Linked DNA regions of Homo sapiens: region 2 is reported to be linked to region 1. Evidence: microRNA targets listed by miRTarBase, many of them from high-throughput screens and not tested one by one. Region 1 holds a microRNA gene; the other region holds the end of a gene's coding sequence.

Region 1 (3,161 bases):
TGCCGGTGAGGGCACCCGTGTGCGATGGCCTGGGACGGGGGTGTGCGGAGCCCTGACCGTGGCACACGCCCTTCAGCTTTGATGTTTCAGGCCCTTGCTCTGGTCATCAGTGAGCAGAAGGTCTAACAGCAGTGATATTTATCACTAGTTGTGTTGGCCAATGTGTTAGGAGGGTGAAGCTGTTTGACTTAAGCTGCTTGATTGGTTTGCATTTAAATAGACACCTGGTGGCCTGGTGCCTGGACACTTGCTCTGTGACCTGCCCCGTGTGGCTCCTCCCTCTGGCATGCATTAGATGAGATGGGCGTGTTTAGGGCGATGTGGCCCTAGACTGGAATGCATTCGAAGTGCAAACCCTGCCCCACCCCAGACCTGCCCCACCCCAGTGTGACGTTAGGAGGCGGAGGCCCAGCATCCTTCACCTGCCCTCCAGGTGGGTCTGAGGATGCTGAGGTTTCAGAGCACTGCTTTGCTAGCACACCAGCGAGTCCTGCTTAAAGAGGCCAGGATCTGAAAGGGCAGGTTACCAAATTGTGTAGCAGAAAAATAGAAATGTTTCCTTAGAAGGGGTGTAGGAAGGAAAATAATTTCCTTCATCATATCTGGAAAAGATTTCAAATTAGTAGGCACTATTTGGAATTATTAGTGGTCTCCTGTATTTCTTTCTTTCTTTCCTTTTTTTGATACAGGGTCTCGCCCTGTTGCCCAGGCTGGAGTGCAGTGGTGCAATCTTGGCTCCCTGCAACCTCTGCCTCCTGGGCTCAGGTGATCCTCCCACCTCAGCCCCCTGAGTAGCTGGGACTACAGGCGCGCTACCACACCTGGCTCATTTTTGTATTTTTTTTTGTAGAGATGGGGTCTTGCTATGTTGCCCAGGCTGGTCTCGAATTCCAGCATTTCTTCTGCCTCAGCCCCCCAAAATGCTTCTGTACCCCTGCCCCAACAAGGAAGGACAAGAGGTGTGAGCCACACACACGCCTGGCCTCCTGTCTTTCCTTGTTGGAGCAGGGATGTAGAAGCACTTGCCGCAGCCGACTTGAGTACATCTGACTTTACTTAGCTTTCCTCATGGGTAGCCTGGCAGTGCTGTGCACCAGTGCTGCTGGCCAGCTGTTTTTTCAATGTACTGGCAGAAAATCAAGCTGACACCCGGGTTCCTTTCTCCCTGGGTACTGACCAGGTGGGAGAGGAGGGGCGTTGTGTGAGTATCATCTTCATGAGGGCTGGTGGGGGAACATCAGCTTTAAGGTGCCTGGGATCTAAGGCATGGAACCCAGCAGTGCAGAGGAACGTAGGGGATGTAGCCTCGGGAGCAGAGATGTGCGGGCCGGTGCCCTCGTTCCTGGCGGGGTCTGAGTGCAGGAATAGGTTGGTGACCCAGCCGAGGTCACAAGACCTGCCTGGATGCATGGCTGGCGTCCGTGCTGGCCCCAAAACTGCCCATTTGGGGATTCCCCTCAGTCACAGACTCACCTAGGGGTCCGGAGAGCGTCCCCACTATGACCTCAAAGAACGAGGTGTTGCCTTGAGATCTTCCAAGGTGAGGGTAGGATTTTTTTTTTTTTGCAATTAGCAATAATTTGTTGTGAATGATCTTGGACCTATTTTCCACTTCTTTGTATAGGAAGAGAGACAGAATAAAAAGTCTCAATGTGCCAGATGCCATGTAATGAAGCCATGGGGTTAACGTTGTTGATTATTACGTAGCATCACGTTAATTGGAACATATTCACACGTGTCCACAGCGTGTGCGTGTGCCCAGTCCGATGAGCACGTTGGGTTAGGGTCGCTGCTGGTTCATGCAGCCCCTCTGGGTGGGGCTGTCTCTGTGGCTTGGCCAACACCCTTGCTGCTGCCACTGTTGGAGTCTCCAGCCTTGACCGGCCTTGCTGCCCCCAGGTTCTCGGAGCCTGCGCACCCTCTTCCCGGCGCCCACCCTCTTCCCGGCGCCCACCCTCTTCCCGGCGCCCACCCTCTTCCCCGCGCGCAGCCTCTTCCCCGCGCGCAGCCTCTTCCCCGCGCGCACCCTCATCCCCGCGCGCACCCTCTTCCCCGCGCGCACCCTCATCCCCGCGCGCAGCTTCTTCCCCGCGCGCACCCTCGTCCCGGCACGCACCCTCGTCCCCCGTCGCGTCTACCCGGGGTCTGTCGTGTGTTTCTACTCTGGCCATGCCCGCCTCTTGCTGTGAGCTAAGTTTATTGAGGTGCAGTAAGAAACCAACAGAGGGGAGCAGAGTCCGAGGCTGTCAGGGCGCAAGGGAGCCTTGGGCATCTCTTCCCCAGCTCTGGCGACCCACCCTTCGGGTTGAAGTGCAGGGGAGAGGTGAGTTCTAAAGGTAAGGCTGCGGTGATTTCCTGAGCCTTAATTATCTAACACTTGGCCATCTGCCGTGTGACCCCATCGAAGGGCACCTCTGGGGACAAAGCAAAGCCCTTGGTGGCCGTGGGCGGGGCGGCCGTGCCTGTCTGTGTGTCCTGCACCGGGAGCCCCGCCAGCCGTGGGGACGTTCAGGCACTTGCCACCTGTGGGAGGTGTGTGTTAGCCGCGTGGTAGGTGCGGATGCGTGGAGGGACAGGCACAGGCCCACAGGCGTGGCGGGTATGGGAGATTTAGCCGCGTGGAGATGCGTGGAGGGACATGCACAGGCCCACATGCGTGGCGGGTGTGGGAGATTTAGCCGCGTGGGGATGCGTGGAGGGACATGCACAGGCCCACAGGCGTGGCGGGTGTGGGAGAAAGCGCGCAGAGTGCCCAGCAGATGCCGCGTGGTCAGCGGAAGCCTTGGATACAGGCCGGGCGGGGGAGGGACATCTGGAAATACGCTTTAAGCAGCATCAATGGATAATGCTGTGATTTTCCTTCTTTTCGTGGTCCAAAACACGTTCTAGTGATGTCGCTGATTTGTGTGTACCTGGGACAAGGAACTAAATATATTAGGGCCTTGATGTAATCTGTAAAACAGGCACAATATGCCTATTTCAAAGAGGCAGTGGACATGAAAGACTGCTCTAAACTATTCAGTGCAATGAGAATGCTTCGTTGTCATTAGCAAAGTAAAATGCCTCCAAGGCGAGCTTGCCATGCGTTTAATGACCTTGGACGTGAGCTTCCTAAACCTGCCAGAAAGTGCTTCCAGCGTGGCTTCATGCAGTGGCTTCAG
Region 2 (3,068 bases), not on the chromosome of region 1:
GCAAACCAAATCTTTTTATTTCTTCTCGGTGAAACTTCTAATTCTCAATTTCTCCTCCTGGGCCTTGCAGAATTGGAATCCTAGTCAATGGTGTAAGAGGGCTAAGAGCTATTAGTTTTATCTTAAGGCATATATTCCTTATGTAGGGGCAACAATGTAAACATTGCAGACCTTGAGCATTCTCTAACATGTAGTTAGATTTCCATAAGGAAATGTGCAAGCTAGATCCCTCTCAAGCGCACTTCACAATAGGATTCCTGCTATGAAAATCTGCTGTTGCTGATCTGACAGGCGGCGGAGCTCAGGCAATCCATGGCCAGGAGATCGGAAACCCCTGCTCCCAGGTCTACAAATCTTTTGACACAGCCTTATTTCCACTTGCTGGGACCCTGTTGATTTCCTGAGAAGTTTCACAAAAGCCTAGTATAAAACTATTTAACTTAGCAATCTTCCAAATGAACTTTACATTTGGTTTTAGTAGTCTCAGCCCTACAGCTATAAGAAATGGATTGTTTGTATTGGCATATAAAAGCCTCCAAGTCCCTTTGCCTTGAGGCAGTAACTTTAAGACTCAAATTTATCCTTTCCCATGGCTTTTGTCTGATTCAGCTGCCCATGGCAGCAGTTACCTAGGGGTTACCTACGGGTAACTGCTGCCTCCCTTTCATGAAACTGGCGACTAGCATTACAGCACATCAAAAGACTACCACTTTGTCTCACTACTTCTCAGTCTATCTCAACTTGGTAAAATTCCAAATTTTCCTCAGTCTTTTGCCTGTTAACACTCTTTGTAGCCATGTCAAATGGCTAAAATTCTTTCAAATCTAAAAGCCAGAAAACAACTCAAACTAGCCTAAAAAAGGAAACTTTCAATCAGCAGGATAAAGGATGGCTACACAACTAAAGGGCTAAAACTCAGGCTTTAGGATAGAAACCGAGGGTTATGTTCGAGATTATCAGGAGTGTGAACTCGCAAGCCATCAGTTAACTGATGGGGAGAGGTTTGGTTGGGGAGAAAATGGTGGAGAATGTAGTTACTTCAGGAAAGGATGCCTGTATATACTACCACGATAAAACCAGGTTTCTCAGCCTTTAATGTATCCATCCATAACACAACCCCCTCTGGGACCACACCCTAAAACTCAACTTTATATATAAATACTACAAATTCTTGTTTCAAAACTCATTGAGAACAATTTGAAATAACCCATCAGGCATATACTAAGTTGTTTCCACATGCTTATCAGAAACAAACCTAAGGGTAGTTCTCTAAGCATATTAATTTACCACAAGTTGGCAAACACTGAAAACACCCTGGACAGTAAGTTTTACAAATTAAGACCTGCCAATACTGCCTATGCTCCATTACTGGTATTTTCCATCACCCAGGTACCCAGATTTGAGACATCATGATCAAGAGAACTGTGGACTAAGATCACCTAGGTTCAATTCAGATCGTGGCATTGCCACTTAAACAGCTATTTGAACTAAGGTAAGTTACTCTACATCATTTCATTGCTAAAGATTATATGTAAAGTTCTTCCCAAAGTACCTGAAACATACTAATACCTAGATGCGATAAAGGTTAGCAAGGCAACAAAATAACCCACCTGTAGCAACATCCCTACAATTGGTCATGAAAATTACTTAAATGCAAAATAATAAGAACATGTATTAAAGTACCCGCAGTCTAGTTATTTACTGTAACTCCATCCCCAAATGGAGATCACTCTAATACCTAGTTATGCACTCTGAATTTTCCAGGAATACAGAAATTCATCCCCCCCTCAACCCAGCCCAAAATAGCAAAGATACACCTCAGCCCAAGGAACACACTGCCCTAACGATTAAACTACAGAAGAACTCTAATTATAATAGAACAAGAACACTTCTTTGTGAACAGCTGCACCAACATTTTTCTTTTCATTTGCGTTTATTTAAACACAGTTCTCAAAACATTTGAGTGAAATTGGGCCTCCTTTGGTAAGCAAAGGACCTGAAAATAATATTTAAAAAATGAACAGGCAAAGTCTTCAGTTCATCCATGACAGGTATAGTGTTCCCTTATCATGTACTTTGAAGCACCCGGTTTTTTCATATAGTCTAAAAGCTAGAAGAACAAGAGTGTATTTGTGGTGGAATGTATTGTCACTTGCTGATAACTAGTTGAAATACCATTATCCCCTTGTAACACCTTTAAGAAACAGCCTTTTAAGGCATACACTGTGTAACTCTTCGTATTTCCTGCTATACATATTACAGATTACATAAAAGCCGACAAATCCACATTGATATAAGCATTAAGCACTGGCTGTATTTTAAGATTTTTAGTTCTAATACTAGCAGTACAGAGTTACAGAGCATAATTTTAAACACTTAGTTGCAGGTATATAAGTATGGTATGTTTCATGGACTGGAGGAAAACGGGCATTTGTCTTTAAATTTACTACTGACAATCTGAATAGTTCTGCTAAGCATTGATATGTTAGAAAGAAAAGTAAAAATCAAACTGTTTATTGTTGCTTTTTGCCATTTGGTAGCATTTTACACAGGCTTCGATCTTCAGAATACCCTGGATTCAGTAGAAAAACCTTTTAAATGAAGTTTTGTACAATAGAAACTTCTCAGCAGTCAAAATTTAGACTGTAAAAAAATACATGCAAAACATACTTTTCTGAAAACACTTAACTTGGAACAAAGCACCAAACTACACAAATGCAGAATGAAAACAGCATTTCAACTCCACCAAAAGTAGTCATCGTAAAAGGTGTAAAAGTCACCTAACTTCACTAGGCACTGTTCACTTTTTAAACAAGAGACAATAAAAAATATTGCCCACAAACAATATCCCAGCTCTAGGGCAGGTTTCAGAAAGTCTTCATGCTTTAATAGCGACCTGGGAAGAAAAGAATGAACATGCTTTAATATTAAGTGAACTAATTATCAAGTATACTTTAATGCCGAGAATTTCAGAATATTCTGCCATTAAGAAATTCCTATGTGCCAGAACCCCACCACCCCCAAATAGAGAAAGACTTCCATGTAAGTATTACACCAGAAATGAGATA

What was found. The annotated mature microRNA hsa-miR-5699-3p reads UCCUGUCUUUCCUUGUUGGAGC and lies in region 1 at 985-1,006, shown strand. An mRNA with a match to its seed (bases 2 to 7 or 8) in the 3' UTR can be bound and repressed. Matches are read on the target gene's strand: a 7mer-m8 pairs with bases 2 to 8, a 7mer-A1 pairs with bases 2 to 7 and ends in A, and an 8mer does both.
Region 2: miRTarBase lists TRA2B as a target of hsa-miR-5699-3p. The part of its 3' UTR that is shown has no 7-base or 8-base seed match.

What each region holds. Positions count from the first base shown.
Region 1 is chr10:639,544-642,704 of GRCh38, reverse strand. MIR5699 (microRNA 5699) reads left to right here and starts at 927; the gene lies at 927-1,016. All of the region lies in intron 1 of DIP2C (disco interacting protein 2 homolog C), which reads left to right. LOC124902361 reads left to right here. Exons shown (of 1, transcript XM_047426106.1): 1 at 1-3,161. RefSeq lists an enhancer at 2,077-2,983.
Region 2 is chr3:185,914,830-185,917,897 of GRCh38, forward strand. TRA2B (transformer 2 beta homolog) reads right to left here. Exons shown (of 9, transcript NM_004593.3): 9 at 1-2,896. The coding sequence ends at 2,886. Among named protein-coding and RNA genes, the nearest start is that of TRA2B, 22 kb to the right of the region's middle.